Homo sapiens: one gene and its partner. The protein of the gene in region 2 purifies or fractionates together with the protein of the main gene of each other region. This does not show direct contact. Each region holds a gene or a part of one and is shown on either strand. Other genes may lie near its edges.

Evidence for each region. The genes of interacting proteins can lie anywhere in the genome.
Region 1: the proteins of ROBO4 (region 2) and SLIT2 purify together in Homo sapiens (affinity purification with western blotting, with the first as the bait; one study listed by BioGRID). This does not show direct contact.

Annotation. Positions count from the first base shown.
Region 1 is NC_000004.12:20,615,405-20,619,696, forward strand, and holds part of SLIT2 (slit homolog 2 protein isoform 1 precursor), read left to right. Parts: intron 1-1,505; coding exon 1,506-1,794; intron 1,795-2,034; coding exon 2,035-2,246; intron 2,247-3,363; coding exon 3,364-3,605; 3' UTR 3,606-4,292. UniProt on the Homo sapiens protein: Thought to act as molecular guidance cue in cellular migration, and function appears to be mediated by interaction with roundabout homolog receptors.
Region 2 is NC_000011.10:124,886,282-124,891,365, reverse strand, and holds part of ROBO4 (roundabout homolog 4 isoform 1 precursor), read left to right. Parts: coding exon 1-67; intron 68-3,525; coding exon 3,526-3,633; intron 3,634-3,866; coding exon 3,867-4,008; intron 4,009-4,152; coding exon 4,153-4,389; intron 4,390-4,543; coding exon 4,544-4,902; intron 4,903-5,084.

The DNA.
Region 1 (4,292 bases), on a different chromosome or scaffold from region 2:
TAGATTTCTGCACCTCTCCTGTTCCTACAGGATCAGAACCTCAGAAGGAGGGGAGAGAGGAGCCTGTAAAGCTGCCTTTGAGCATGCACTGCTGTTGGTTCTTATGTATGACAAACTTAGGACAACTTCTCTGGTCCATATGCTCATGGTGTATAGATGACAATACTAAGCCCCAGAGAGAAGAAATAACTGCTCCAAGTGCACGCAGAACCAGAAATCCTTACCGTATAACCTAGTGGTTTCGTACACCTAGCTGTCTGACTGATGCCTGCTTTGAATGCCAATGGATGAGTCATTTCCTATGAATGGGAAAGGAGAAGGTGGCATAAGTTCAGACCCAGAGTGTGCTACAGTTCTTGGTCTTTAGAACCAACAGACCCCCTGAAGAGTGAGAAACTGGGTCTTCCTCAGCCTAGAACTTCCAGCCAGTAGTCCAGAGTTTAGGCACAGCTAAAGCATAATTACGGGGTTGTGGGGATGTGGTGGTATAGCCAGCACTCTGAAAGCTTCCAGCACCCTCCCCCCTTCCCTGGATGGGTGCCTTCTGCAGGATGCCTTCCACGGACTAAGGGTCTGGCTTAGGCCATGGAAAGATTCTTCCGTTTTGCCAAAATGAGTGTTACCAGATAACTGTCACTAGTGGAATGTATATATACAAAGATTGCAAATACTCTGTTTTTGAAGGGATTTCATTTTTATTTCTGATTTCTTGGACTATGAAGTCTTCACTCTTAATTAGCAAGAAAGAAAAAATGATGTGAATGAGGTGCTGTCCTGAAAAGAATCAGGAGTGAGTTTTTAGGCATTGACATCATTGACCAAGCTTAGGGACGTTGCCAGGAGTGAGCTGAATTAGTTGCTAACTTCGAATGTGGGAGGGCTGGGGTGAATGGTCACTGTGAACCCCAGCTGTCAGCCCCTGAAACCTGGTGGACCTAACCCTGACTCCAGAGATAGAGGAGTTCTTCTCATCAGCCTAACTCTAACCTGAACTCACTGGGTCACCTTGAGCATGTCACCAGGGCTTTCTGAGCCCTAGCCCCTTGTCTTTAAGATAAGGGGTAGAATTAGAGCACCATAAACTGAGCTTTATGGAGCTCCAGACTTCCAGGAGTGTGTGCCTGGAGGTGGAGGGTGGAGGACAAACAGAGAGGGAACATTCCCTTCCCCCAGTCTTGCCTTTAAGGACAGTAGCTCTGCCTCTAGGTTTTATATATTTGTGTACATGTAAAGTTTTCTTTGAAGCAAATTTTAAAGATTAACCACCAATCAACTAGGTATTTTATTCTAGTTGTGGATTAGAATTTCCTGGAGCATCTTCCAATACAGAACAAAACAAAAACACACATCTCTACATCTCTTCTCCACTTCACTTCCCTACCACCCTGCCCAAATATCCTGCCATAATAGGTTGGCAGTGAGGTCCCAAGCATCAGTATTTCTGAGTAGCAAATGGCTCAGAAATCCCCAGAGAGCCTGACCTCTGACCTGGTGTTCCTCCCCAGGCATGCCAGGGAAGAGTAACGTGGCATCTCTGCGCCAGGCCCCTGGGCAGAACGGAACCAGCTTCCACGGCTGCATCCGGAACCTTTACATCAACAGTGAGCTGCAGGACTTCCAGAAGGTGCCGATGCAAACAGGCATTTTGCCTGGCTGTGAGCCATGCCACAAGAAGGTGTGTGCCCATGGCACATGCCAGCCCAGCAGCCAGGCAGGCTTCACCTGCGAGTGCCAGGAAGGATGGATGGGGCCCCTCTGTGACCAACGGACCAATGACCCTTGCCTTGGAAATAAGTAAGTTCCTGCTGCTTGGGAGTTGAGCACACACCTGAAAGCCTCAAAGCCAAACCAAAGGAAGGAAGGAAAGAAGAAGGGGAGGGGACGGGAAGGGAGGGGAGGGGAGGGGAGGTTCGTTAGGCATTAGCACTCTGTCCCTCATATTTTCTCAATCATCCTCCATTCTTATATCACCTCCGTTCATTCTTACCTCCTCTTCTGAATGCATTCCCACTCCTGTGTTCCTCCTCCCTGTAGATGCGTACATGGCACCTGCTTGCCCATCAATGCGTTCTCCTACAGCTGTAAGTGCTTGGAGGGCCATGGAGGTGTCCTCTGTGATGAAGAGGAGGATCTGTTTAACCCATGCCAGGCGATCAAGTGCAAGCATGGGAAGTGCAGGCTTTCAGGTCTGGGGCAGCCCTACTGTGAATGCAGCAGTGGATACACGGGGGACAGCTGTGATCGAGGTAAGCCAGCCCCACTGGGCACCTCATTCTCTTGGCAAAGCAAGAGGGGTCCCATGTCTTTGAAAAGAGAGGGAGAAAAAGTGAAAAAAAAAAAAAAAACAGGAGCAACAGAGACAGAGAGAGGGGAGTGACAGGAGAGAATACTAGGTCTTCTCACTACTTGCAGTTGCTGCTATTGATTTATTTTCAAGTATTTTGAAGGCACCAGCTGTGAAATGACCTTAAACCTCCACCGCAAGATTGTATACAGCCTTCAGATGCTTCTCACAAGTTGATTTGTTGTAAAAGAAATGCTCCTTTTTACCTGATGGAGAAGCACATTTACTTTACTCCTGTCTTACCTTTACCGGCTGTTCTCATCCGTATATATTATTAATTCATCTTCTGGCACAGAGAAGATGGTCCTCTTAATTCTGCTCTAGTTTTAGTACAAAATGACCTTTGGCCTTAGAATCGACTGATTTATCACAGCAAATCATGTGGGTGAGAGGAACGGAAACAGGCTGACTTCTTAGTTCACCTTCCTCCTTCTCCTTTGTCTGCGTGATCAGAGCTCGCCTGGCCTCCAGCTGGCACGGATTTTGTTTTGTGTGTCCAAGGGACGAGACAAGAGGAACGTGCCCATGGAAGCTTTTAGCAGATGTCTCTTTTTTGAACTACATACTTCATACTGGGGTAATTTATGAAGTTAATGGAATGTTACTTGTATTAAGTAACAGATTGGATAATATTAAACTCCAGGTCTAATAAATAAAATGGCATACTCTCTGAAACTGCTCCCTGTGGTAAACAAAACCAGCTGTTAGTAGTGTAAAAACAGAAGATGTGTACTTTTTTTCCTTTTTTGCAATGAAAGAAAATATTTAGGAATCCAATTTTCTTGTCACTGCAATAGCATTGTATTTATACTCTACATAATAGCATTCACTTTGCTGAAAATAGAGACTAAAAAGAAGTATTTTTCAAAGAATAGGAGGCCGTGCCACCAGCTAATAATATGTAAAGCAAGTTACAAAGGGGAAGCAAAGGCTTCTGAATTAAGTTGTGGATTCACAGTCACTCTGCATGACTTACAGTGACTGTTCTTAAAATGCTTGTGCTTTTTGTTCTTTTCTAGAAATCTCTTGTCGAGGGGAAAGGATAAGAGATTATTACCAAAAGCAGCAGGGCTATGCTGCTTGCCAAACAACCAAGAAGGTGTCCCGATTAGAGTGCAGAGGTGGGTGTGCAGGAGGGCAGTGCTGTGGACCGCTGAGGAGCAAGCGGCGGAAATACTCTTTCGAATGCACTGACGGCTCCTCCTTTGTGGACGAGGTTGAGAAAGTGGTGAAGTGCGGCTGTACGAGGTGTGTGTCCTAAACACACTCCCGGCAGCTCTGTCTTTGGAAAAGGTTGTATACTTCTTGACCGTGTGGGACTAATGAATGCTTCATAGTGGAAATATTTGAAATATATTGTAAAATACAGAACAGACTTATTTTTATTATGAGAATAAAGACTTTTTTTCTGCATTTGGAAAAAAAAAAAAAGAAATGCTTGAACTAAAGCTTCCCCTATGCTGGAGAAGTATGAAGAAAGATATACCTGGAGACATTAGAACAGCGATGGGAACCATTGCAACTCGGGTCCATCTTTGTAACATGCTGAAGACAAGCAGAAGCACATGCACGAGGGACAGAGGAGCTACTGTGCACTGCTGTGAAATTGCCCAGAGCATAAAACCTGTGTACCCTCCTTCACATCAACCAAGTTCACTAGGACATACCAAGCACATGCGTGTGAATGAGGATGCAAGGCAAGAGAATGGAACTCCAGAATTCACAGATAGAACAAATGGATGAGAAATATTTCATGCAAAATATAAAGTGTCCTGAGGATCTGGGTTCCATTTACGAGAGGAAATGAAAGTGCTAAAATAAATTTTATCTTCCTTTTAAATGTCAGCATGTCAGCAGAAGCAGCACACAAAAGTCTTTACCATTTTCCAGTATTAATTTTTTTGTAATATAAATGATAAAGGAGATGATAAAGAACCAATAGATTATT
Region 2 (5,084 bases):
AGGGGACTCTCTTCTCCCCGCTTGTCTCTGGCCCCTGCAGAGGCTTGGAAGGCCAAAAAGAAGCAGGGTAAGGAGGGGGAGAATAGACATAGACTGAGCTGGTGGTAGGCGGGCCCAGGAATGGGAATGTGATGGGAACAAGGCCTCAAAGCCTGGAGGGGCGTGCAACCTCCACACCCTCCTTCCATTCTCCTCTCCAGGTGGACACAAGACCTCTTTCTCCTACCACCAGAGCACTCAGCTAGGGGTGCAATAGCCTCAGCTTTTTGCACTGTGCTCTTGTTTCAGTTTGGCTACACCAGCAGTGAGCCCTAATTCTGCACTCAATTCAACTCAGCAAACGTTTAATAAGCACCACTGCATGCCAAACATGGGGAACACAAGAGACGTCAGACACAGCCCCTGACTTCTAAGGGCTCAGGGCCTGTCTAACGAAAGTGTTGACTAGCAAACAAGTAATGCTAGAGCCTGGGGGAATGTGACCAGTGCTGGCACAAAGCCTCAGGCTCCCACGAGCTCATCTCCTGGTGTACTATGTACAGGTGTGCTTGGGCACCGACTCCCAACTCACTTCTCAGAGAGGAATGGGTATTTCCTTTCTGGACAGGTTTATCTCCTGACTCCCAGCTGCATTCTTAGACTTTTCAGAGAAAAATAATTATAGCCTCCATTTTTTATCAATTGCTATATACTAGGTGCTTTACTTATGTTTGTTATTTCATTTAATCCTCACAATAGATTGGCTAGCTACTATTTCTCTAATTTTACAGACAGGAAGAGGGTCAGAATGATTGAGTTACTGGTTCAAAATTCTGCAAGTAATTAGCTGCAGGACTCAAATCTGAAGGCAGGATAGTCTGCCTCTGAAGTGATTCTGAGTCTCTCTGGAGCTCCCTCAGGAAATCCTATTCTCTCTTTGAGTATTTTTTCCTATTTCTGGCCTGCAGAACATTGGCCTGCAATCTACCTGCTGTCTTCTTGAGTCTTCTGTACTAATTAGTAAGACCTAACAAATGTTCTACAGCCAAGTCTTTTTTTTAAGTGGATTTAATCCAACTTTTAATAAGACAAAGATGGATTAAGATAATTAACAGCTTGTTCAATATCCAGAATTTTATGACTGTAAATATCAGCGAAGCTGGCATTCTTACCAGCTTTGCCTCAGAGCTATTGCATTATAAATCCTTGGTGGTAACGAAACACCAGCTAAAAAAAAGGTGGAATAGTCTCATTTAAAAAACAGCCTTCCCAGGGAGAACTACACCAACTTTAATGGAATGGATAGCCCCTCTTAGAACAGTAATGCTACTGGAAAGAGGTGAGTGGTTTTCTACAGCCAGTTCTTAAGAAGGGTTCCAATTCTGAGATGAGGCTTCCTAGCCTGTGGTTTAGGTCCTTACTTCACTCCCTGTTTCTCCTCGCTCCAGCCCCATCTCACCACTGCCCCCAGGATAGGTCAACTGCAGCGACTCCTTGGCTGGTAGACACTAGATATTCTACCTCTACCTCCCAGGACCTCAGCAGCAACAAGATCATGCTATGGTCTTCTCCAGACCCATGGAGTTGATTCTACTGCTGTTTCTTCCTCTTCTAAAACTGGCAGGCTCTCCCAGTACCACCCACTCCCCTTGACCTGCTTGTTCCTTTTTCTTATTATTTGGCCTTAGTTGGGGTTTCTTCTCCAGTGCTGATATCCTCACAATTACAGTCTCCTGTCTCTCATCCATCATAGCAGGTTCTTAGTTCTGCTCAGTTTGCCAGATATATGCACTGAATATCCTCATTCATTCATTATTTTATTCAAACAAATATTTATTGCAATTTGACCAATGAGTTTCAACCTTTCACCTTGATAACATTTTTCTTGTCCAGTTTATTCAATTAGAATTGAAACTAAAGTCCAAGTAACTCCAAGCAACATAGGAGGAGGGCTTTTGTTACCAGAGTCCCTTAGAGGAAGTGAAACAGGCTAGGATAAAAGTGGCCTTTTCCAGGCCTGGCTGTTTTCTTTCCCTTTCCACTCAAACCAGCCAACCAACTTGTGCTCATATTTCTGAGCTTAGTCAAGAAGCCAGGCACCAGACAAGACATAGCTGATGATAGCAGAGTTGGTGCACCAACCCTGAAGTTGGCTCCCCAGATTACCTGGGTCATATGAAAGCTATAGAAAATCAATAAAAACCAAACAGCCAAAGTACCAAAGGAAACTTTGACGGAGGGAGTCTAGTCATTGATGAGTTTTCATCCTAAAGGATCAGAAGGTCTGGCCACTAGTACATAAATGGGGTCTTGGTCAATGCCAAAGCCTGGCTCACTTCCCTTCTCTGAAGCTGCCCGTAGTGGCCCCCAGATCTCTGATATGTGACTGACTAGATAGCTCTACCCTGAAGGTCCTGCCTGGTCCCTGGTCCACCAAGAGGGGAAACTCTTTCCTAGCTGGGCTTCTGGTCATGGGACACTAATCTAAAGGCTGTTTCTTTTCTCCTTTGTCTGATGTTCTTCAGGTTCCTGCTCCTGGAAAAATCTCTCTCCTGTATTACCCTATTCCTCTCTGGCTTAAACTTAGATCCCTTTTGCATTCTGGTCTGACCAAGAAGCATGCTCACAGGTCATTGCACATAGTTAGGGCTGTCTCTTTAGTTTCCAGCTTCTCTGTTGTGAAAGTTCACTCAGAGCCCTGTCTCTCCACTGCCCATGTGGGCCAGATGACAGCTTCCATCTTCTAGGTGACTCTTCTCACTGTGTGTTTATATCCACATTTCTGATATCACCCATGCATTCACTCTTTCATTCAACAAAAAGTATGGGCAGGGCATTGCGTCCCTGGGATAGACCAATACCTTTTCCCACTCTGAAGTTCCTCTTCCTATTAGCTGACTGTCTCCTGTCACAGCCAACATTGTGTGTCGATCCCTGTTTTTGTCCTACCCACTCAGCTCAACCTGACAGTCTACCCCATCTTTCAAGTGAGAGACAGTCGAGTTTCCCAGAGCAGGGCTATCCAGAGCCATGTGAGATATTTGCAATGTGAGAAATGGAAATTAATAGATTCTGTCCAAGAAAAGAAGGAGTATTTTTCTTACTGAGCCAAAATTCATGAGAGTAGCAATGTGAGGGTATAGAGATCAGGAAGATTGGAATGAATACAGTCAAGGAAAAGAAAGTTGTTTTTTAAAGCATCTATCAAGGCCAAGAACTTGTGCAATCTGTTTTTACTTAATTGTCAAGACCATCATTCGAAGTGGTTGTTTACACATGAAACTGAGACTCAGAAAGGTACATGGACTGCCCTGAAGTCACACAGCTGAGCTGGGCAGGTCTTTTGACCCCAAGCCTAGTGCTCCTTCTACCCTATCACAGCTGCTGGATGAAGATGGGGGTGTGGAGGGGATTCAGGGGGTTCCCCCTCTTTTCTCTGGGTTCAGGGTCGTGCAGGCTGAATTGAATAAGGCTGAAGATAGAGCCAGCAGCTGGGGTCTGAAAAGTCCATCCTGGGCCCCACAACCACCAACCCTTTCTTTGCAGAGCTGCAGCATGCCAACAGTTCCCCACTGCTCCGGGGCAGCCACTCCTTGGAGCTCCGGGCCTGTGAGTTAGGAAATAGAGGTTCCAAGAACCTTTCCCAAAGCCCAGGTGAGAGGGGGTCCCTGAAAGGGAAGTGAAGGGGTGAGATAGGGTGTAGGGATGCAGGGGCTTACCAGCCCAGGGCCCTCCCACGGGCTCATCCTCCTTTCCCTGAGGAGGCTGATGAGGGTTGGATGGAGTAGTGGACAGGTAGCTAAGGGGGCTGGTGGGCAGGCCGGCAGGCTGAGCTCCAGAGCAGATGGGGATGCCACTGTTCTCACACCCAGGCTTCTCTTCCCCAGGAGCTGTGCCCCAAGCTCTGGTTGCCTGGCGGGCCCTGGGACCGAAACTCCTCAGCTCCTCAAATGAGCTGGTTACTCGTCATCTCCCTCCAGCACCCCTCTTTCCTCATGAAACTCCCCCAACTCAGAGTCAACAGACCCAGTAAGAGGGCATGGGGTCGGGAAGCAGGGCTGGGAGAGTGGGGGTGTGGGGAGTGTGTGCCGGGATTGGACAGGCTGGGGAAGGGGGGAAAGGACTTGAAGAGCTGTAGTAACTACGGTGCCATCACTCTCTCCCGCAAATCAGGCCTCCGGTGGCACCACAGGCTCCCTCCTCCATCCTGCTGCCAGCAGCCCCCATCCCCATCCTTAGCCCCTGCAGTCCCCCTAGCCCCCAGGCCTCTTCCCTCTCTGGCCCCAGCCCAGCTTCCAGTCGCCTGTCCAGCTCCTCACTGTCATCCCTGGGGGAGGATCAAGACAGCGTGCTGACCCCTGAGGAGGTAGCCCTGTGCTTGGAACTCAGTGAGGGTGAGGAGACTCCCAGGTGAGTAGCTTGAGAGATAACCAAAGAACTACAGAAAAGCTGTGGGGGCAAGCGCCTCTCCACCCATTCCGCCCTCCCTCAACTGGGGCTTTTCTGTTACTACAACCCTCATTCCACCCAAACCATTGCTGTCTCCCCTTTTGCCTCTCCCTAGGAACAGCGTCTCTCCCATGCCAAGGGCTCCTTCACCCCCCACCACCTATGGGTACATCAGCGTCCCAACAGCCTCAGAGTTCACGGACATGGGCAGGACTGGAGGAGGGGTGGGGCCCAAGGGGGGAGTCTTGCTGTGCCCACCTCGGCCCTGCCTCACCCCCACCCCCAGCGAGGGCTCCTTAGCCAATGGTTGGGGCTCAGCCTCTGAGGACAATGCCGCCAGCGCCAGAGCCAGCCTTGTCAGCTCCTCCGATGGCTCCTTCCTCGCTGATGCTCACTTTGCCCGGGCCCTGGCAGTGGCTGTGGATAGCTTTGGTTTCGGTCTAGAGCCCAGGGAGGCAGACTGCGTCTTCATAGGTATGTGAGGTCTCCCCATCTTACTCCTCACTCATGCCCCTTGCCTTTCTAACAACTGTTATCATGTCATCATTGTTAAAACAACTAGTTTTATTGAATGATTATTGTATCTCAGGCACTATGATAAGTGCTTTGCATACATTTAATATTGAAAGTCTATGTGGAATATTCTTTATCTCTCT